6 separate regions of the Homo sapiens genome follow, and regions 1, 2, 4, 5 and 6 are each reported to be linked to region 3. The links are microRNA targets in miRTarBase. Many come from high-throughput screens and were not tested one by one. Region 3 holds a microRNA gene; each other region holds the end of a gene's coding sequence. Distances are from middle to middle.

The links. The annotated mature microRNA hsa-miR-6077 reads GGGAAGAGCUGUACGGCCUUC and lies in region 3 at 1,607-1,627, shown strand. An mRNA with a match to its seed (bases 2 to 7 or 8) in the 3' UTR can be bound and repressed. Matches are read on the target gene's strand: a 7mer-m8 pairs with bases 2 to 8, a 7mer-A1 pairs with bases 2 to 7 and ends in A, and an 8mer does both.
Region 1: miRTarBase lists CNTNAP2 as a target of hsa-miR-6077. Seed matches in the 3' UTR shown: 7mer-m8 at 2,618-2,624 and 7mer-A1 at 414-420.
Region 2: miRTarBase lists SNX29 as a target of hsa-miR-6077. Seed matches in the 3' UTR shown: 7mer-m8 at 107-113.
Region 4: miRTarBase lists TMEM97 as a target of hsa-miR-6077. Seed matches in the 3' UTR shown: 7mer-A1 at 1,334-1,340 and 7mer-A1 at 2,208-2,214.
Region 5: the mRNA of GRIN2D is a reported target of hsa-miR-6077. Seed matches in the 3' UTR shown: 8mer at 1,190-1,197.
Region 6: the mRNA of NSUN4 is a reported target of hsa-miR-6077. Seed matches in the 3' UTR shown: 7mer-m8 at 2,246-2,252 and 7mer-m8 at 2,522-2,528.

The regions. Positions count from the first base shown.
Region 1 is chr7:148,414,819-148,418,664 of GRCh38, reverse strand. It overlaps CNTNAP2 (contactin associated protein 2), which reads right to left. Exons shown (of 24, transcript NM_014141.6): 24 at 1-3,248. The coding sequence ends at 3,049. All of the region lies in intron 1 of LOC105375554 (a long non-coding RNA gene), which reads left to right. Among named protein-coding and RNA genes, the nearest start is that of C7orf33, 170 kb to the left of the region's middle.
Region 2 is chr16:12,568,052-12,571,897 of GRCh38, reverse strand. SNX29 (sorting nexin 29) reads right to left here. Exons shown (of 21, transcript NM_032167.5): 21 at 1-3,392. The coding sequence ends at 3,269. SNX29-AS3 (SNX29 antisense RNA 3) reads left to right here. Exons shown (of 4, transcript XR_007064988.1): 2 at 3,599-3,738. Among named protein-coding and RNA genes, the nearest start is that of SNX29-AS3, 41 kb to the left of the region's middle.
Region 3 is chr1:148,386,688-148,390,533 of GRCh38, forward strand. MIR6077 (microRNA 6077) reads left to right here and starts at 1,595; the gene lies at 1,595-1,676. It also overlaps the pseudogene RNVU1-2. RefSeq lists an enhancer at 898-1,737.
Region 4 is chr17:28,325,625-28,329,388 of GRCh38, forward strand. TMEM97 (transmembrane protein 97) reads left to right here. Exons shown (of 3, transcript NM_014573.3): 2 at 1-23; 3 at 910-3,061. The coding sequence ends at 1,169. It overlaps IFT20 (intraflagellar transport 20), which reads right to left. Exons shown (of 5, transcript NM_001267776.2): 4 at 3,549-3,652; 5 at 2,702-3,109. The coding sequence ends at 3,028. Among named protein-coding and RNA genes, the nearest start is that of IFT20, 8.0 kb to the right of the region's middle. RefSeq lists an enhancer at 1,545-1,594.
Region 5 is chr19:48,443,377-48,446,376 of GRCh38, forward strand. GRIN2D (glutamate ionotropic receptor NMDA type subunit 2D) reads left to right here. Exons shown (of 14, transcript NM_000836.4): 14 at 1-1,555. The coding sequence ends at 561. It overlaps GRWD1 (glutamate rich WD repeat containing 1), which reads left to right and starts at 2,607. Exons shown (of 7, transcript NM_031485.4): 1 at 2,607-2,816. The coding sequence starts at 2,630. RefSeq lists enhancers at 494-1,185, 2,358-2,437, 2,598-2,687.
Region 6 is chr1:46,360,562-46,364,379 of GRCh38, forward strand. NSUN4 (NOP2/Sun RNA methyltransferase 4) reads left to right here. Exons shown (of 6, transcript NM_199044.4): 5 at 143-267; 6 at 1,009-3,818. The coding sequence ends at 1,285. Among named protein-coding and RNA genes, the nearest start is that of NSUN4, 22 kb to the left of the region's middle.

The DNA of each region.
Region 1 (3,846 bases), not on the chromosome of region 3:
CAAAATAGCTTTTTCAACCTCCTGGACCAGCTTTCTTGAGCTCTAGGGAATATGCTATTTTGAGAGCTTAGGATCTCACTAACCTTGCATTCATTCAAAGTCATCTCCTAGCTTTTTTCAAAACATCGACATTTGCTTCATACACAGAAGATGTTTCCTGCACAACTTTAAATCAGCCACCAACTTTCCCTGAAACTTTAAAACAGTCTATTTTTTGTCGTTGTTGTTGTCTATACATATTATTTAAAGAGGCTACTACCAGCATACTTGTGCTTGCTTGATAATGTATTGGAATGTAAGATGTCAAGATTTTGTGAGATGTGAATGACAAAGCAGGATTAGGCACTGAGAGCTTGGGCGGGAATGTCATGGTTATGGAGGCTGCACTGTGCTAGGCTATCCAAGGAGAGAGTTGGAAGAAAGACTTAATTCTTTTTCTTCACATAAACAGATTATTTACCATTTAAAATGTACTGAATATGGCCTTCATAAACAGATGTAGGGATTTTTGTTACACCCATAATCCCAAGGAGAGGTCAAGATTTCCAGCATTTATTTGGCACTTAGTTACTTAATACTTTATCCACCGTTTGGTTTCCTGTCTGATGGCCACATTGTAACCCTCTTGAAGGAAGACAGTGTCCTATATGTCTTAATTGATGGTGATATGGGAGAACCACTGATCCCTGCAGTCATTCCAGTGTCCTAGGTTTGAAATTTTGGTGAGAGGATTGGATCTCATTTTTCACCTTTTGTGGCAGGAAAAGGAGAGGGAGGAGAAAGGATGAGAACATTTTAGTAGCAGAAGCTGTTTTGGGTGGCTTTAATTCTCTACTCATTTTGGGAAAAAAGGGAAAGTGTTGAGACAATGCATAAAGAACAGAGCTATCATGGGAATTGCAAGAAATAATAAATTTCCATCTGGCATTATTTGGTAAGTGCAGAAGTAATACCTGTAAACCAGGTTTAAAAATCAGAAACACTTCTAAAACATCATGTTTAAAATTTGCTTTCAACAATACATAAAGTAACTCCTAATGGTAATCATCTTGGCTAAATAAAACAGCCTTTGCTTTCAATATGTCATTTGTAAATGTTACATTGTTCTGATATTTAGTGATATTAAGTATTTTTCCATTTTAAATGTATTTTATAGAAGAATGATTAAAACCTTTTAAAATTAAGGGTGTCCATGACAGTGCCTGAGCTCAACCAGCAATGGTAAAAGGGCATCAGGATTCCCTTTTGTTCTGTTACCTTGACTTGTATGGGAATTAACTGGTCCAATGTCTCCTTTGGAATGTGCTCTGTACTGGTGTAATGTGCCACTGGCAACTCTAGGTAATGTTTTCCATTACCCAAGAAACTGATGTGCTCCAATAAGTTAGGCACACTGAGAATCTTGAAAAAGAATGCATAATTCTAACAAACTAGAATTTCCATTTTATTCAGCCGGGCCATCAGAACAATAGCATCTATACCTTCGAAACCTCCTCTTAACCTCTCCCAGGCAAAGAAGGAAAAAGTGATCATATTGAATTCCTCAGAATGGTGGGATCTCAAGACTTTTTAGAAAGTGCTTATTAAGTATAAGAGGCTTGAAATATAATGATGATAAATGGTAGCCTTTCTGGAAATAATTTTTGTGTAATCTGTTTAAAAAGATTTTTTGGATGCATTGTCCCCATTTGTTTACAGGAAGTGTATTACTTTTAAATATAATCAATGAGGTATTTATTTGTTAAATAACTGGGTCAAGATTTCAGATTAAACTAAGAGGTGTGATTAACTACACTTCTCCATCCTCTGGGAAGCAACAGGTACCAGGTTTGTGATGAACCTGAGGTTCAAATGTGTCCGTCTTAGAAGAAAGATCCCTGAATCACAGCAGTGTGATTGGATGGAAAAACACGTGGAGTAGTTGATTTAAAATATGGCAGTGTTTTCCATATCATCCAGAGTAACAGCAATAATAACTTGACTTTATTGTGTTGTGTCCATTTACAGGACACTGTCTATTAGGATTGTGTCACAGGGGTGGAAAAACTACCAGAGATTTAAAGCAAAATAAGAAACGCAACCTAATTTATGCATTCACTAGAAATTATCCATATTTTTGCTATAACTAAACTATAAAAGAAAAAGAGCAAACAAATCATAACATCTGGCTCTAATTCCCCATTGAGGCGCTTATACATATATAAATCCAGTATGTTTCAGATAAAACAGGAAAAAATCTTTTGTAACAGCTGGTCACCATGGTATTGCAGCTGATAGTTACAGCTATTGGTCTAAGACTACATACGTGGAACAATATTAGCTTGTAGAATTCAATGAAAAATCAAACTACCTTCCCTGGTTCTTTAATGCCTCTCTCCAGTTGTGCTGATTGTGTCGTTACACACCAGGTGCCATGCACTCTCTTCCTTCAACTGCTGGTATCAGTCAGGAACCCCAGATGCCAGAGAGCTGGCATAGATTGAGCTCTGCTTAAAAACTGGCAAATAATAGGTTCTCTTTGCCCCTTTCTTTTCCGACTTATAGGACATCAAAGGAAATAGTATATAAACACGAACTAGTTTCTGTAACAGCCCATTAAGGTTGACTAGAAGCAAAAGGAAGAGAATGTTGGGGGCCATCTGTAGGTGCATTAGCTTTTCTCAAGAAAAAAAATACCCACGTTCTAAGGGCTCTTAAAAACGTAGAAAACTTGCCCTGTTACCACGGGTCTTTAGAACACCTCTAAACACACACAAAATAAGACAGATAGTACCTACAAATTTCAACCATTGCTTAAACTCTAAAAGCATTTTTTGTATTATTTTGTTTTGATACAGAAGGGAAAACTCAGCTATAAAGAAATATTAAAAAGGTTTTTTTTTTTGTGATCAGTCTCAAGAATATTCCATTATATTCCATTGCCTGCCTCCCCCAACTTGTGCTGATATTTTAAGGATGTGCTCAAGAGTATGAAGCAGGGTGCTTTTGTCCCTTTCTCTCCTCCCTAGTAATTCCCTCCTCCCTATCCCATAGCCAAGTAGCCACCCCTCAAATGAGCCATTCCTTTTTGCTTTCATCAATGGTCTCTGTGAAGTTGGGGTCGTTGTTCATGATGGCGGCGTCCGCGCTCTCTGCCGACTCCGCCCCCTTTGCTTCGTTGGTATGGTAGGTGCCCTTGTGGCGGAACATGTACCGGATCAGGAAGACCAGGGTGCACAGGATGGTGAAAATCACCACAGCAATGACGCCTGACGGAGAAAGGAGAAGCACGAGAGGTTAGACAGGGCTTGGGAGTCCCTCCAACACTGTCCCCACTTCACTACAGCTCCGTCAGACACAGCCCTCTCCCATATAAAACACAACCTCCAAAACAACAAAGATAACAAAAATGAAGTAAGATGTCTGTTTTTGTCCATGAAGGAGTAACAGGAAAAACAGGAGTAACTTGTCTTCCAGCCAAAAGTAACTAAAATACTGGACACAGTCTATGAAATGACAGTCTACAGACATTAGAAAACAGGCAGAAAGGAACCATGATGTCTGAGAACAGAGAAACAAAAAGGAGGAATCCTACATTTTTCCTAGTTTTCTGGCTGGCAGCGATTTTTGGACAGCAGTGTAGGGAGGGGCAGCACAAGAAAGCACAGTGGTTTCCCTGAATGGAGAGGGGAGATAGAGTGGGCGCGCGAGAGAGCTATGTATAGAAAGAACCCTAATAATCTGCACATAAGTCTCTCTGAATTTGTGGCCGAATAATACTAACATGTGCATGTACAGAATAAAAGTCCACAGGCCAGGCAAAAAACCAGAGCTCACGGAGGGCTGGGAGATGTTTATAGTCCAACA
Region 2 (3,846 bases), not on the chromosome of region 3:
GGGGCTTTGAACCTCAGCTCCAAACTCTAAAATGCCTTGCCAGCAACGTGATTGGAGCATACTGCTAAGTGGGAATCAAAGAAGCTGGAATTTCACACTGATTGCAGGAAGAGTGGCGGAGAAGGTTCTGTCTCAGATCAGGAGTGGATGGTTGGGCTAGGTTTCTAGCAGCCTTTAAGCTCCCTCCCTTAGAAGCTTTTGTTGTCTCTCAAGGAGAGACACCTCTGCCCAGCCCTACCGTTCCTGAGTCGTCTTTCATCTGGGGGAGAAAAAAAGATGTGAAAGATGGAACCTGCTGTTCTGTTTCAGCACAGCAGGCCATGAAGACAGAAGGATTCGGTGTGGATTCTTCCTCCCAGCAAAGGGTGGTCCCAGGAATCCAAGGCCCTTGAGAGGTGGGCCACCCTCGTTCCTCTCTGAGTAGGGGAGGGGGCTTCTGTTCTCAGATGTTGTTTGAAAATCTCCGAGTAATCTTAGAAGAAGACAGATGTGAGGTGCAAGCAATCCTTTCCTCAGGGGTGTCTTCGCCACTCATGGATAAGGTCGTGGCTTAGCCCTCAGAATTGAATCCAGGCTGACAGGCAGTTGACACATTTCCAGGGTGTGGAATTTGGGCACCAGGTTTCAGCCACAATTCTGCTAGGCCTGGGTGTTTCTGCTCCATAACTCCAGGAACTGGGAACCCTGCCAGTTGTTTGTTGCCTGAAGTTCATCCCACCACACTAGAGAGCAGGACGGGATTCTTCTGAGCAGCAAGATGGACCCAATCATTGCAGAACATTCTATGGGATTCCAAAGGGAAGGCTTCGGGGAGTTGCTGTCATGTGCGGGCCACCAGCATTTTTAGAGTGAGAATGAGAGGAGATGGTCTGGATCTGCGAGATGACTCGACTCTACGGTCTGTGCATGATCATGGGGGAGGTACCAGGAGCAGGCAGCTGGGGATGGTCCCCATGTGGCTCCCAGGAACATGCTCTCATTTTGGAGAGCAGACCAGGTTTTTTGTGAATAATTCAGTATTATAAAAGTAGGAGGCAGTTTCTCCCACCAGTTCAATACCAGCTGAGAGCATACTTGTTTCTCACGGGTTAGTATCTCTCAGCAATGGGGGACTGTTGCATTATTATCATGTGCAGAATGTCCAAGGTGCTTCCTCGTGGGGTATCTGGAGAGAGACCAATTCACATCCTGTGCTTTGGGGGCAGGTGTCAGAAAAGGTGCAGGTCATAAGCCTGGGCCCAAGGGAATGTCACAGATGGGGGAGGTTCCTTTATCCAACAGAGAACAGGGAGATGACCTCCAGGGTAGCTACCCAGGCCAGGGAGGCACTCCTGAGACAGTCTCTGAGCTGGCATCAAACACCTACTTCAAAATGACCGATGTGGCATAAACCCAACCTAAGGGGTCATGACATACAGCAGATTGAGCTTTTAGACGTTTCCTGCCTCAGTCCATTAGGGCTCTCTATTTAGAGTTGCCAGTCATGTGAGCTGATGTGCACTCTGGCCTTGGAATTTCAGATAAACCATGTGTATTGCAGCAATGTTGGCAGGTGAGTGGGAGGGAGACCAAGTTGCCTTTACAGGATGTCTCGGGTCCTCCACACTCGCAAACTGACTGCAGGGTCCGCACCTCCATACATGCTCCAGCTCATTTGGTCTCACCGGGGCAGGGCTTATCTGGCCCCAGGTCCCCTTGGAAGTCATGTAGGCTGACTCGGTTTCTCTGGGGTGGGGGGGCGCTGTGTGTGAGTGATCTCAGCCTTCCTTAAAGGCCATGAACAATCTTCCTTTTTGCTACGAGGGGAAGGCACAGTATAAACCTTCCAGATGATTCTCCAGAGATGTCCTCGAGCCTAGGAGATGCTCCATGCTCACCTGGGCAGTTCTCATTTTAAGCCACTGAGTTGAAGCAGTTCCAGGACAAGCCCATGGCTTACCATCTAACCGTCACCTTCCACCTGCTTTTCTCCTCAGGTTCTGCTGTGTCTCTGCCTCAGATTAAGGCGAAACACACAAACTTACTCTTGCATAGTCCATTTCACGACATCCTTCCTAGTTAGTTTACCCTAGAAATGCAAACTGCCACAACTTTGCTGAGCATCTGAGGACGGCTATTGCTCTGTGAGGTGCTCTGATGTGAGCTCACTGGAGGAGGAGCCCTGGGGGCTGCCCAGCTGCTGGTCCCCATCCTCCTCTCCACCTGCCAAGGTCCCTGTACTCTGAGAGCCACCTGACATGGGAGGAACAGAGGACTCTGTCTTAGGGGATGCAGAGTTCTGTTATCAAGGACAATGTCGGGGGCAGACGGGATGGAAAATGTTTTTAGTGGAGAGACACATGATCTGTTAAGTGTCCACACTGGGTCCAACTTCATAGTCATGGAGCCTGGTTTGAAAACCCTGGAACCTTCTGCAGTGGTTCCCTGACCCAAGTCTCTCATGACTGTAGGGCCAATGCTACTTTGGACACGCTGGATGACGCCGGGTTACTAGGTTGCTGCTGATGGCTGGGCCAGATGTCTGAGTCCCCCCACTCCAAGCCTGGCGAGGGCCTAGGTGGCCTCAGGCTATGGAGGGCACTGGTCCTTCCTGAAGCCAGCCATGGGGGAGGTAGGGGAAGTTCTCTGAACTCAAGTTGCACATCACTAATGGCTCCTTGCCAAAGCCACAGGAATATCCCTCTGGAAAAGTGAGCTGTGACAGTGCCAGGTGTCTAATGACTGTTGGTGGAAAATGCAGTGAAAGGAACCATGCCCCCCCCCCCCCCCCCCCCCGCAAAGCCAGCCATCCCTAGGTTAGGCCAGGTAATAACCTTAAAAAGCAAAAGGAGAGGCTAATAGTCATTCTAGTCCCCACGTGGGAAAGAGTGGAGAGGCTGGCTCTGCATGAACCTTCCTATATAGGGGATCACCTTTGCCTCTCAACCATGGCGCACCCAGCCTGACCTGGTGCCCACCCTCCTGCCAGCCCTGAACTACAGAAAGGTGGAGGAACAGCCCTTGCAGCCCAGGGTAGACCCCAGAAGCAGAAGGACTGTGTGTCCCAGTCTCTCCAGCGAGGTGCTGCCTTGGTCTCTCGGGTCACGGTATCATGCGGCTCGAAGACTGATTAGTTTAATCGGGGTGTTGTGTAACTGTTGGGAATCGTGTGCTCTCAGGATCACCAGGTGGACGTGGTTGTCACGCTGAGGTGAGGGGCCAGCGGCAGTGGCTGGGGTGGACGCAGCTGGTGCCACGCACAGGGCCCGTGGCTGCGGTTTTGTCGAGGTCAGAGGTCACCGCTCTGGGGCTCCACGTTGCGGGTCTCCCGGGGCTGACCCCGGGACAGTTTGGGGAAGCGGGAAGCTGCTTTGGGCCGGCTGTTCACAGGCTCTCCGGGCGGGGTGATGTCGCTGAAAGAGCAGGGAGAGAATCGGGTTAAGTCTGGGGATGAAAAGCAAATGACCACAGGCCAGGAAGGGGAGCCAGGTGTGAGGGCAGGAGGGATCTGATTGGCAACTGTGACTGGCTCATTGGATCTGCCTCTAACTGGTGCCACCTGAAGAAATGAGAAACCCCTATTGTCACGTAAACCTTTCCATTTTTTTTTTTTTAACAGCACTCCGAGGCTCCAACCAAGCTTGGCTGTGAGTCTGAGCTAGCTCATGGTACCACCGTTCCGGTCTACATTTTAAGGCTATGAAAGAATGTTCTAGGCACAGCTTTCTTCCCCACATTTTCCTTGATTTTCCAGCAAAGGTACGCTTCTAAGTCCAAGGCAACTTTGGAGAACACTACATAAAGCCACACAAGATGCGTAGCAAAACACAGGAGACGGACTTCCTGTGGAATTAATCCTAAGAAAAT
Region 3 (3,846 bases):
TCAGGACAATAAATAGACAATAAAAAAAGTCTCACAGAGCAGATTAGCTGTCATGTATTACCAAACAGGGATTGGATCCTTGTCAACACCACCCAACAGAAATTGTCCATACAAATTCACTTCATAACATCAAAACCAAAAGCCCACACTGATGGCAAAAAATAATGACACAATAATGAGAGAGAGAGAGAGAGAGAGACCTGTCCTATAGCCATACTTAGTGTGTAAAAGCCAAAGAGCTCAATTTCTGCTCATGATACTTAATAAAACAGACGGAACATGAGCCAATAATTCAGTGGGTTCAGATCTGCACCAAGTGCCTGTTGGATGCAGGATTCTACTGTCTCCAATAATATGTCTCAGATGGCCTAGTTTTTTTTTGTTGTTTTGTTTTGTTTTGTTTTGAGACAGAGTCTCGCTCTGTCGCTCAGGCTGAGGTGCAATGGCATGATCTCAGCTCACTGCAACCTCTGCCTCCTGGGTTCAAGCGATTTTCCTGCCTCAGCCTCCCCAGTAGTTAGGATTACAGACACACACCACCACATCCAGCTTTTTTTGCTTTTTTTGCTTTTTTTTTTTTTTTTTTTTTTTTTGTATTTTTAGTAGAGACGGAGTTTCGTCATGTTGGTCAGGCTGGTCTCGAACTCCTGACCTCAGTTGATCAGAAGTAGGTGAGGTCAGAAAACATACCCTGGGAAATGCTGGCACAATGCCCAGAACCGCCATCTCTAGGCCTGGGGTTTTCTTTTGTAGTGGAATACTAGTATTCATGCAATGCAGGGACAAGACCAATTAGATACTTCTGGGAGTTAAAAAGAGATGAATTTACAGTGCCATTTGAGAAGGGGTATTAAGGAATTTGCCAGGGTACTGACGCGTGTCAGGTGCAAACTGCAGGTTGAAAGAGAGCTAAGTATTTTCTGTCCATGAAGGTGATAAGGGAGGGCCTGAAGAAAGACGGACCGGGAAGGACACTGGCGCCAGAAGTAGGAAAGGGCTGCTTGGGGGTGGGAAGGATGGGTCGGGGTGCTATCTAAAAAGTTGCCTGGCAATGGATGTAGGATATGGAAGCGAGACATCAAACAAGAAGTTGTCATTTAAATAAAGTCTGAAGAAAGACTAGATATGTAAACAGCAGGAGATAATAGGGAAACTGGACCCCGCTGCTCATAAAACTTCCTGCCTTATATTTCAGGGAGGATCGCAGCGCATTTCAGCCAAGACAAGTAAGACTGCGGTTCTGACCTGCGGGCCTCCACGAATTGCATTAGGGCACCTGGGCTCCGGGAAAGCCATTCCCCTACACAAAGTAAGCGTGTTATGTCTGCAAATGAACGGGGACACTAAGAGCCCCAAAGGCCCTGCTTTCATCCCAAAGAACAGCGCCTGTCTGCGTAGTTTGTACCTGGCTCTATGAGGTGAGAACACATTCCCCGCTAGCACAGAAATCCTACAAACTCCTGAGGGGGCTGCGGTTAGAAGCAGGGGCTGTGTAAAAGGTGACTCTGGGGGCTAGAGAAAACCACGAAGATTTTCACAGAGCGTGAGAACCCAAGACACTGGAGACCATGGACCAATCTCTGCAAAAAGCAGCCCTGCGTAGAAAGGGAAGAGCTGTACGGCCTTCGCGCTAGTTTGTTTGTGTTAAGGCTGACGCTCCCTATTTCTCCTCAGTGGGAGAAGCGACATCTTAATTCCTATTTCCCAGCCTTCCACTGTAAGAATAACACGTCCAAGACACAAATCAATGAAAGAAAAAAGTAGCCCTTAGAGTACAGCGTATTCTTGAAACTACAAAAAATCAGGGGAAAGCGCGAACGCAGTACCACTACCACAAATTATGCAATCGAGTTTCCCACATTTGGGGAAATCGCAGGGGTCAACACATCTGGAGTGCAATGGATAAGCCTCGCCCTGGGAAAACCACCTTCGTGATCATGTTATCTCCCCTGCCAAGTAAATATGAGCTCCTGCACCTCCGCCCCGTACGCCTCACCCTTTACACGCACGGTCGCTTGCCCCGCGCACCCCCCAGCCCTCCTAGCCCTGACACACAGCTGGGACTCTCCGGCCGGACCAGCGGTCCTGAGCCCGCTCCCAAGGCTCGGGAACTCCTTCGAGGCGAAGCAGCAGGTGGGGAAGCAGCAGCTCCTGCGCTGCCTCATCTACATAGAAGTCGCCCTATCCGTGATGTCACCGACAGTGCCTTTCCCAGGCCCCATCTGCCTTTCTGCCAGTCAGCCGACCAACCCGCTGCCTGAACCAGCAAGAGGAAGTGACGTCTGCCTCTCCCTTTTTCCCTCCCGCCCCGGCATCTGTTTTCGCCCAAAGAAGCTGGTCCTTAGCCTATCTTGTGAAGCAAACTTTCGGTGGCCAGATGGAGCCTGGGTACTCTTCTTCACATAATGACTTTTATTTCGCAGACTAGAACGTTTAGGACTACAAAAGAAACCGGTTTTCTTCACATACTTATCCTTGTAATGTAGCATTCCGCTTGAAATTGGAAGCCGTTCAATGTCACAGAGAAACCATATTTATGAAAGTAAAGAGGCTTCTCAGATGACTGCAAACCAGCCTTCCTTACTGATTTTATCACTGGTAATGTTATAAAAACAGTTGTCAAGTTTAATGAATCTTGTAGTTTTTTTTATTTTTATTTTTATTTTTTTCCAAATTCAGTATTGTGGAAAAATATGCTGCCACAGAAGAAATGATTGGACACTCTCAAATGTGGTGTTGCACTTTGTCATCTTTTGCACAGCCATCTCCAGACCTTATTGCTTACCTCGTGTTAGTTTTTTATATTCTGCAAAGACAAAACCAAAATAATCCAAATTTGACAAAAATACCTGGGATACATCTTATTTGTGATGCTTAACAAATGTCTGGATCATCTTTTCTTATATGGGATTATAATGCAGGAAACACTGTGAAGTAAGCAAAGTTGGAATTCCCAAGTCAAAGACCATTTGAATATTTACAAGTAGATTTGAGACAGGAATAATACAGGGTGGTCACAGGATAACAAATTCTAGGCAGCAGATTTACATGACTTGAGGCTATGGGCTGATAAGATGCTGAAAAACCAGGGTGTGGACCAAGCTGGCTAAGACTGACTGGACCCAATGTGGTGCTGGATTTGACGTAGGTTTTACCTAGGCCCTCATTATACGCTTATTAACATACTAAATCACACACCCACCAGTGCCATGACAGTTCTGAGACCAATATTTGATGTAAAAATGGATGGCACCACAGTTCTGAGAAATCTCCACCTTTACCCAGGAATTTTCATCAATATTCCACTCCTTGGTTAAAGAAACCCATTGAGATGAAACCCCAGAACCCATTGTTCTCTCTCAGGTATGCCCAAACTCCCCTTTCTTGAGTGTGTACTTTCTGCTTTGCAATAAATCTCTTCTTTCACTATTTGCTAACTCATCCTTGACCTCATTCTTGAGATGGTGTCAAGAGCCTGGACACCACAGCTGGGGTCGAGATCCTACCAGTGTCCGGGGACCTCCCCCAGCCCACCAGTATCAGATTCTATTCCATTGCTCAAATCACAAAACATCAAATGGAGAATTCTTCTTTGGAGACCACAAAGTAAAGATTCTGTGGCATGGTGGCCAGTTAGGCCACTGGAAGACATGGCAAAATATTGAAAATGAGGGATTAGGTGACAGCGTAGTAACTGCTGAATGTGAAATACTTGATCCAGACCCCATTCCCTGTAGACTGACTGGGAGACACATTGTCCAGGTAGTAGTGGAGAAATACTTTCTGGGTATCTGACCAGCCTTTGTGGAAAGAACTGGCACCATCCTGCAGATGTAACCACCTGAT
Region 4 (3,764 bases), not on the chromosome of region 3:
TGCAACGTATGCCTTCCTCAAAGGTTGGTAAATGGTGGGAAAATCCCATTTTTACTCAGAAATCAGGTCCCAGAAATCTTTTGGGAAAGTATCTCCAAAGGGAAGGGGATGGTCCCCATAGTTTGTGGGAGAATGCTACAGGATCTGGGGTAAATAGCCAGGGTAGATCTTGTAAAGGGACATTAGTGTGGCTCAGGCTCATGTCTGTGGTCAGCAGGCCTGCACGGCTGCCTCAGTCGTCTGGAAATCCCTTGCATACACATGAAGCCTGAGACCACTTAAACAATGAGCTTGTTCCCTTTTGTTTTGTTCCCCAACAGAATTAATTTCTCTTTTTGTTGGCTTTTATTTCTCTGCGTTGGATAGTATCATACTGACTTATAAGCTGTAGCATCAGGCTAATCCCTAATGTGCTTCTCATTTTAAAATTATTCTTAGTGTTCTCATATAATCAATGCTTTTTTAAAAAGGTGACCATACACGTGTACTTGATAAGCTAAAACCACTGAAAATGCTCGTTTCCCATTGGCACCCCCTGGGGTCACTGAATCTGCCTTCTGATCCTCTCACCTATATATAATTACTGAACAAACAGATGCCATGGGGCAGGGATTTCCCTCCCCTTGGATTTTGTACCACACAGGTTTAACCGGTAATGGCAGTTTTATTGCCCTAGAGCTTTTCCGAGTTATGTTCTGACCCCCATTCTTGGTTCTTTGGCGAGCTGTCGGTGAGCTGTCACGTAAGTCTGCATGTTGGGCAGTGTGGCACATCCAGGTTTCCAGTTCCGAGTTTCCACTTGGAGAAGGGAGTAGAAGAAAGCAGGCAGGCAGAGACAGTGGGAAGGTCATGGACACCTTTGAGTCATGAACAGACCTAACCATTTTTCTTTTCCCCTGACTACCTCAGGAAGCTGCAAGTGGATTCGAACTCCTGCAATCATCTACTCTGTTCACACCATGACAACCTTAATTCCGATACTCTCCACATTTCTGTTTGAGGATTTCTCCAAAGCCAGTGGTTTCAAGGGACAAAGACCTGAGACTTTGCATGAACGGTTAACCCTTGTGTCTGTCTATGCCCCCTACTTACTCATCCCATTCATACTTTTAATTTTCATGTTGCGGAGCCCCTACTACAAGTATGAAGAGAAAAGAAAAAAAAAATGAAGGAAACAACCACTGGCCCAGGGTAGAGATGCCTACAGGGTGGTTGCTTGTTGGATACAATACAAGGAACACTGCTCAGAACCCACGTCTTCAGCAGCATTTGAAACACTGGCAGCAATGCACAAGAGCAAGATGGTGTCAGGAACCATGTCAAACCCTCACCTTCTTCCATTTTTTTTTTTTTTTTAAGACAGTCTCACTCTGTTGCCCAGGCTGGAGTAAAGGGCAGTGGCATGATCTCGGCTCACTGCAACCTCCGCCTCCTGGGCTCAAGCCATCTTCCTTAGCCTCCCAAGTAGCTAGAACTACAGGTGTGTACCAACACGTATGGCTAATTTGTTTTGTTTTTTTTGTGTGTGTGGAGACAGGGTTTTGCCATGTTGCCCAGGTTGGTCTCGAACGCCTAGGCTCAAGTGATCTGCCCACCTCAGTCTCCCTAAGTGCTGGGATTACAGACGTGAACCACTGGGCCCAGCCCAAACCTTCACCTTCTAAGGGCACTGGGATGAACAGACCGATCGGCTTGAGGGTGGGCAAAGGGGTGTGGGCTAGGTTATAAGGAAGTGGTACCAAATAACTGTGTGCCTGAGTTCCACCGCAAGATTACTAAAAGCAGGACCAGACCAGAAACTGCTAAAGAACATGGCCTGTTTGACATGTTCATGAGTCACCTGACCCACAGCATATATGCTTATGACTAAACCCTCCACTCCTGATTCTCAAGAGTGTATCACCTGTCAGCAAAATGAATAGTGGGATATTTTGGGCCATTTTAAATGTGAAATTTTGCCTCTTTAATGTTAATTCAAAACTATATCAATGTTTTCTTGTTCCCACCTCTAACCCAAGGAAAAAAGAGAAAACATACTATGCAAAGGAAGTTTAAACTTAAGTTTTCCTTAAGGGTCAGCCCAACAATGACTTTCAGTCAAATGGATTAAACTGGAAAATGTTTTTGTTTCTGTTGTAAACAGATCATCCTAGGCGAAAGTTTTTTTTGTTTGTTTGCTTTTAAATTAGTTTATTTCTAAATCTTAGTCTTCCACATTTCTAGAGGCCACCTGACACAAGTCCCTGTATCTGAAGTCTAGCATCTCAAGGCTGATCTGGAAGTGTGCTAGTATGCTCCCTAGTGGATAACTTAATCTTTTAATACAGTTCCGTCATTCCCATCTTGTTTTCAGAAGAGAAGGTGGCTACAGCCAGGCATAACATATCCACTGTGTGCATAGAGGGTCTCTTCACGTTGATGCTTGGCATTCCATCAGCTTTCTCTAAGTCTTTGCTCAAGTTCAACCTTAAAATGATGTTAGACAACAGGTCCCAGTCAGTTCCCTCTATTTTCACCCATTTTGCTCACAAGCCATATTGGCCCGATTAGTGGTACTGTCTGACTCACGTGTGTGATCCAAATAAAGGTAGCTGCTGACCACTGCCTGGTTTGTTTTGTGGACTAGGGGATAGAGAATCCAGGGTTCTCTCATGAGGAGTTAAACATATTTCAAGAGCAACAGGAAAAAAGGTACATCAAGCCATTTGAAAACAAAAATTTATTGCTTCTCCTTCCAAAGCTTTGTGAATTTACAAAAAAAAGGATGAAAGTTTACAAACTGCTTAGTTCCAACTAAGCATAAGAGGTGAGAACGTACACTGCAGGGCCACCAGCAGCAGCTGTGCACTGATGTTAAAACTGGCTCCCCCAGACTTGTAGTGCTGTCTTCAGGGGGCTGCATTCCTTACACGCCACCTCTTGTGACATAGGTCATTGGTCAAGCCGCTGGAATGCTACAGAGGTTTTTTTGGTTTTGAGAGGCTTTTTTTTGTTTTGCCTTCCTACTATAAAAGCGAAATTTTCAGTTCATTTCTGAAAAATAAATTGGTCAATAAATTCATTTTGTTCTGCTTCTACTTTACACAAAGCTTCATATTCAACCCGATACCTGAAAAACAAAATTGTTAGAGGCCCTGAAAAAAAGATGAAGTAAACCACAGACCTAATTCTTCTAGAGAAGGATATAGAGGTTTAAATGATTTCAAGAAATGGTGTGAGTTCAGAATGAAGAAAGAAAGAGGCAAAGCCCTACCCAGAGCCACCCATGAGAAATCTCCAGCCCTAGGAAAGTCTTCTTTCAGAGAGCCAGCCAACTTCGTGGACCCTTTCATGCTCAAACTACTAGAGGTGGTTTGATATTAACAAGTTTTCTATTTCCTTCCCATCAAATGTAATTTTATTTTTTAAAATCTTCAAATCAGGATGACAAGTGAGATGCTATTCCTGGGAAAACAATGATGAAGAATAAGGACAAGAAGTGATCATTCCAGAAGGAAGAGTGGAAATTCAGCTGTGTAAAGAACTTGCTTTACATCATGACTTCTTACCTTTCTAGCTGCATTTTCTTTTCTGCTATTAGGGCTTGAAGTTGCTGCTGTTGAGCTTCTCTCTGCTTTGCTATAGATTTGAGCAAGTTCCGAGCACCGATGGCCTACAGTATTGCCAGAGAAGGCCATGGCTTCATTAAAACCATCTACAGCATCAAGTCCTCAAAGTGGGGAGGGGTTATCTGGGAGCTGTGTCAGTCTTCAGAGAGGAAAAGA
Region 5 (3,000 bases), not on the chromosome of region 3:
CGCTACTGGTCGGTCGACAAGCTCGGGGGCTGGCGCGCCGGGAGCTGGGACTACCTGCCCCCGCGCAGCGGTCCGGCCGCCTGGCACTGTCGGCACTGCGCCAGCCTGGAGCTGCTGCCGCCGCCGCGCCATCTCAGCTGCTCGCACGATGGCCTGGACGGCGGCTGGTGGGCGCCACCGCCTCCACCCTGGGCCGCCGGGCCCCTGCCCCGACGCCGGGCCCGCTGCGGGTGCCCGCGGTCGCACCCGCACCGCCCGCGGGCCTCGCACCGCACGCCCGCCGCCGCCGCGCCCCACCACCACAGGCACCGGCGCGCCGCTGGGGGCTGGGACCTCCCGCCGCCCGCGCCCACCTCGCGCTCGCTCGAGGACCTCAGCTCGTGCCCTCGCGCCGCCCCTGCGCGCAGGCTTACCGGGCCCTCCCGCCACGCTCGCAGGTGTCCGCACGCCGCGCACTGGGGGCCGCCGCTGCCCACAGCTTCCCACCGGAGACACCGGGGCGGGGACCTGGGCACCCGCAGGGGCTCGGCGCACTTCTCTAGCCTCGAGTCCGAGGTATGACGCGGCCCCGGGGGCCCCACCGCCCCCTTGGTCAGCGCAGGCCACGGCCCGAGGGGGCGCCCGCAGTGGACAGGACCCGCGTGGGTTGGGAAGGAAAGCAGTGGAACTGGCCGGACCCCGCCTGGAGCAGCGTCCTGCGCCCCCTGGTTCTGGAGGAACCGCAAGCCGGAGAGGATTTGGTCCCTCAACTATCACCCAGCCTGAGAACGAGGGGGCGGGGGCCTTGGAGCCCACCGGACTTTTTTTTAAACCCGACAAGGGCTTTTTAACGTCACCAGATGGGGCGGGAGGTGGGGGGTTCACGCCACTCCCGCGTCCCACCTCCACGCCCGGGGCCGTGGCCCCCACATCACTGTGCAGCTCCCCGGCCCCAGCCGCGCCTCCGGGGAAGCCCGTTTTTAACCTTTCATCCATTGGGACTCAAAACTGTGAGACGCGTTCGCCAAACTGTGACCCCAGACCTTGGCCCCGCCACACAGAAACCCCTGACCCAGACTGTGACATCCGACTCCTAAAATGGTCATCCGACTCCAGACTGTGACCCCTGACCCCAAACTGTGACCCGAACCCCAGACTGTGCCCCGACCAGACTGTGACCCTTGACATCAAACCGTGACACCCCCTCCTCCTCTTCCACCCTCGGTCGCTTTTCCCTACTCTGACCTAGGACACGTCCCCAACGGAAGCCCCGCCTTCCCTTGCACCGCGATGAACCCAACCTCCCTGAAGCCAAAACTTCCCACCCTGCCGCACCTCCGGACCACCCCACTTGCCACCAAGCACATCCTCTCCAAATCCAACCCTTATTTGCGACCCTTCAGTGATGACCCAGCAGACCTCCAAAAAGCCTCCTCTGCCCAGATCTCCAGCCGGGTCTGGGGCTGGGTTGCGGAGGGGAGGGTCTGGGAGTCCACACTTCTCCACCAACTTCCCTTCCCACTCTCTTATTCCACATTGCAGTGTTTGGAATAAACCATGTTTTTATGCCTCCTCAGTCCAAGCCTAAGCTCCGTATCTGTTAGCCCCCCTCAAATTCTCTGGAGGAAACAGAAACACAAAAGTCCCACAGGGGAAGAGGAGACAGAATTAGAGAGAGAACAGAGACTCTGAAAGGAGGTGCCTGGGGAGACAAAGACCAAGAAAGAGGAGGTGGGAAGAGACCCTGAAAAGAAAGTCGAGAGGGTACTGGGGCAGATAAGAGACCCCAAGAGAGTGGTGAGATAGATCCCGGAGACAAAACATATTAAGATCAAAGGTATGGTTTTATTTCCTATGGCTATAGGTACCAAGGCTTGCTACATTCTCAATATCCTGTTCATGCAAGCTAGGAGAGTGTCTGACATATCCCAGCCAATCCGCATTATCTTGAATGCTGTTAATCTCACCAATGAGAATCTATTTCTAACATTTCATTATGTCAATTAGCCAAACCGCTGGTGCTGATGGGCGATAAAGAGAGACGAAGCACTTGTAATAGCTGCCTCCAGAGGGTGGACTTTCTGATTAAGTGCTCGCTGACCAGAGCTGAAATGTGAATGTCTGGTTAGGCAATTGACTGCCCCTAGAGGGTAGATTGAACCGCCTAACTTACAGATAATATCCATCCTGTCTACAAGAAAGCATTTTTGAAACAAATGAAAGCCATCACAACAGAGAGAGGAAAAGAAACCGGCCTTATGGGTCCTCGGGGAGTAGAAACTCAGTCTCCTTGCCAGTGAAAGAGCAAATTTGCATATATGAATAATTAATTAACTGGAAAGAACGCTCTCGGAATCAAACTGGACAATGGGGAAAACAAGCCTCCCGTAGAACTACAACTCCCAGAAGGCCTTGCCACTACCGCGAGGAACAGCGCCCAAAGTCACGCGAAGATGCAGTTTCTCCGTATCCGCAGGCTTCTTTCGCTGGCGCCATTACCTGAGTTCTCCTCCAGCGTTTCCGCACCCTCTCCGATTAGCGGTCCCAGGAGTTTCCAAGGTAACCGCGCAGTAGGGCGGATCTCATTAGGCGGAAAGCGAAACCCGGAAGTGACGCTCTTACCGGGTGTCAGCAGCGAGAGGGTTCGAAGATGGCGGCGCGCAAGGGTCGGCGGCGCACGTGTGAAACCGGGGAACCCATGGAAGCCGAGTCCGGCGACACAAGTTCCGAGGGCCCGGCCCAGGTCTACCTGCCCGGCCGGGGGCCGCCGCTACGCGAAGGGGAGGAGCTGGTCATGGACGAGGAGGCCTATGTGCTCTACCACCGAGCGCAGACTGGTAGGGCTGAGTCCGGACTCCAGGGTCCTGAGGTGGCTGATCCCGAGCCTTTAACCTGAGAGGTGCTCGGGAAGAGAAGGCTGGGGTCTAAGAGAAGTGATTTCATACCGGAGGCGGTTGATCCATGAGGGAGGTGGGGACTGAGCTCTTACTGTCCCGTCTTAACTCGTAAACCCCGCCTTCC
Region 6 (3,818 bases), 100 Mb from region 3:
AACTTTGTCAGGTACTCTGCAAAGGAGGGATGGGCAGAGGGAATATTTCACAAACTTAGGCCAGGGGCCTAAAACATCTCTGGCCTAAGGAAGAGAAGCCTATAAGGATCTTTAATACTTTACCCTTTAACACTCTGGGTAGGTGCTGGTGGATGTGCCCTGTACCACAGACCGCCACTCCCTTCATGAGGAGGAGAACAACATCTTTAAGCGGTCAAGGAAGAAGGAGCGACAGATATTGCCTGTGCTGCAAGTGCAGCTTCTTGCGTGAGTGACAGATTTTTAAACTCAGGACTTTGTGCCAGAGTGCTCTGGGAGACTGGGGGACTGGAAGCTCTTACCAAGACCATAACCCACACAAGAATCTTATGGCTGGAGATCTGCCTAGAGGAGACAGAAATGGGATCATCTCTGGAACATAAAAACCCTATTTGAATTAGCTGGGTGTGGAGATGCACACCTGTAGTCCCAGCTACTCAGGGGGCTGAGGGAGGAGAATCACTTGAACCTAGGAGGTGGAGGCTGCAGTGAGCTGAGATCGTGCCACTGCACTCCAGCCTGGGTAACAGAGCAAGACTCTGTCTCAAAAAACAAAAACAAAAACAAAAAAGCAACCCTATCTAGTAGGATATATATACTAGAGTGGGCTGCACAGATTGACTCATGCTATTTCATCCTCAGTACCAGTGAGTAGCACATGTTTGAAAAATAGCTGCTAGAGTAAGGACTCATTCTATAGCCAGCATAGCAATTTGGTCCATAAACAAGAGCTCAGGGGGTCATTGTAAGGAGACTTCCTAGTGAAGAGCTCATGGAGTAAGGTTGGGTTGCTATCTGCCTTGAGAGTGACTTTTCAGACAGTGTCATTGTGGAAGGGACTTGAGAGGCAGTCTAACCAGCTACCCATCCTGTAGTAGCCTTCCCTTATCCATGTTTCCAGCTCCTTATGTTGCTCTTCTACTGCTGGGAAGCTCACTAGTAACTGCTTCTGTCTCTTTCTGGTTTCAGGGCTGGACTCCTTGCCACCAAACCAGGAGGCCATGTTGTCTATTCTACCTGCTCACTCTCACACTTACAGAACGAGTATGTGGTGCAAGGTGCCATTGAGCTCCTGGCCAATCAATACAGCATCCAGGTACAGGTGGAAGATCTGACTCACTTCCGAAGGGTTTTCATGGACACATTTTGTTTCTTCTCATCCTGTCAGGTTGGGGAGCTGGTAATACCAAACCTCATGGCCAATTTTGGCCCCATGTACTTCTGCAAAATGCGTAGGCTGACATAGTATCACCCAATCCCTGAAGCAAGAATACAAAGGGTATACTCTGTTGGATGCACCAGAAACTGGAAACTGGGACCAGTGGCAGAGATGCACTCTCGGTCCTGTCTCCATCCTGTTCGTGTCTTTCTGCAGTTTTCGGCAATAAGAAGTAGAAGATTTGCTGTCCTGCTGTCCAATTGTGGAGCATCAGCAGGTTTCCAACTCACTCATTAACCCCTACCCCATCTCCAGGCCTGTACTAAAGTTTGCTGCCCGCTTAGGGGCTTAGAAGGAGAAGCCAGTGAGCAGGCTCACACTAAGTTGTAAACATAGGAGAAGCATTTGGCCAATAAAGTTGTTGAAACTCTATAGACCTGGGGCTGCAGTTGGGGACTTCATGTCAGTGCAAATGCCATTAGTTCCATTTGTACCAGCCAGTTACTGAGCCCCTGTCACCCTTGAAGTGAGTTCCACCTGACCAGTCTTGAGCAGCCAACAGGCTCAATTAAGCCCGCCTGGTTTTTCCATATGGCTCATGATCTAATTTAAGGAACAAGTAACTAAAAATGTTAAGCCAGTGCAAAATAATCTGCTTACCTACTCACATTGGAAAAACCCTCTGAGCTGAATAATTCTGGCCATTCCTGCTGTCAACAATACTGCTGCCCAAATGTGGCTTAGGAGGCTGCTTCTGCCACAAAACCGTCATACTCTTGTGCGTGCCTTGTTCTTTGTTCATTCATCTAGCAGGTATTCCCAGACCTCGTGTATGACAGGTAGCTAGGGAGCTCTTGGAGATGTAGCAGTTGGGATTGTGGGAGATTACTGGGCTTCCTCATCCTTTAGAATGGTAACTCTCCTTTTGCTTTCTGAACACCTAGGAATTTCCTGATGTTTTGTTTTGTTGGATTCCAGACTTTTTGTTGTTTCTAGTCTGCAGCTGAGCTCTGGTGCCTGTTCTTTGGCCCACCCCCTAATCCCTAACTCTTCCCTCAGCATCACAGGGCTTCACTGCACACACTGTGTTCAGGGCAAGATTTCATCATTTACTGACTGCATACTCGATATGTTGTTTTTGTAACTTTAGCCAAAAGAAAGTAACCTTTAGTGGCAGGGATATAAAAAATTGCTCAGGGTCACTTGCAGATATTTTATTTTTAAACTTTTTTTTTTTTTCCTGGAAAACATCCTGTGCAGAAAAGGGTATATAATTTTAGAATACCTGAAGGCTTCTTGGCTTTTCCACTTTCCTTATTCCTCCTCTTCCTGCCACTCTTTTTGTCCCTTCTGTCTTTCCTGCTCATCCTTATTTGGGTATTAGAGGTGTCAGTTGAGGAGGGACTTTAGCTGAGGTTAAGCCTTCTTTTGGGATTTGCATTGTAATTGAGGGCCCTGGAAGATCTCTGAGACTCAAAATCAGGTGAAGCTAGGAAGATGGAGCTTTAAGGAGCATGGCTAGTGCTCTGAGTAGGACCGTAACCGCCTCCGTGCGTGGCATATGGTCCCTGCATGCTGTTCACTCTGTATAGTACTTAGTATTCGCTGAGGCTAAGAGGCCTCAGGTGCCTGGGCTTCTGCCCTTGGACTCCTGGATATCCAGCCTAGTGCTAATTGAATGCTAAGCAGTGGTAATTCAAAATGAGAGGGTCCCCTGCCTCTAGAGTCATCATCTAATTGGGGACAGGCAGACCTAGATAAGAAAAGCAGAGAACTACTTTGGAAAACAGTTTATCTGCTGTAATTGAACATTCAGCTACCCTATAACCCAGTTAATCCAATACTGGGGATAAATCCTAGAGAAACTCATACATGTACACCAGGAGATGTGTACAAGAATATTCATAGCAACCCTATTCACAAAAGCAAAAGCCTAGAAATAACCCAGATGCCCATGAGCAAGAGAGTGGACAAGTAAACTGGAATATTCACATAATAGAACATTATACAATTGTCAAATGAACTATAATGATACCTAACCATATGGATGAATCTGAGCAATAAAATAATTAAGTGAAAAAAGTTTAATCCCAGAAGAGTAAATGTAGCATGATGCCCTTTCTAAATGAAAGGTTTTTTCTTTTCTATGGAGTTATTCTTTACATACAATATAGTTCATAAATTTTAAATATATTGTTTAATAAATTTTGATAATTGTATATAATAGTATAGTCACCATCAAGATGTAGAAAATAGAAAATAGGCTAGGCACAGTGGCTCACGCCTGTAATCTCAACACTTTGGGAGGCCAAGGTGGGAAGATCACTTGATCCCAGGAATTCTAGATCAGCTTGGACAATGTAGTGAGACCTGGTCTTTACCAAAAAAAAAAAAAAAAAAATTAGCTGGGTGCGCTGGCATGTGCCTGTGGTCCCAGCTACTCAGGAGGCTGAGGCAGGAGGATCACTTGAGCACAGGAGTTTGAGGCTGCAGTGAGCAGCCTGGGCAAGAGAGTGAGACTCCGTTTTGTGCCACTGCACTCCAGCCAGGGTGACAGAGTGAGACTCTGTCTCAAAAAAAAAAAAAAAAAAAAAGGCATTGGGATTTATAATGTGCTGTT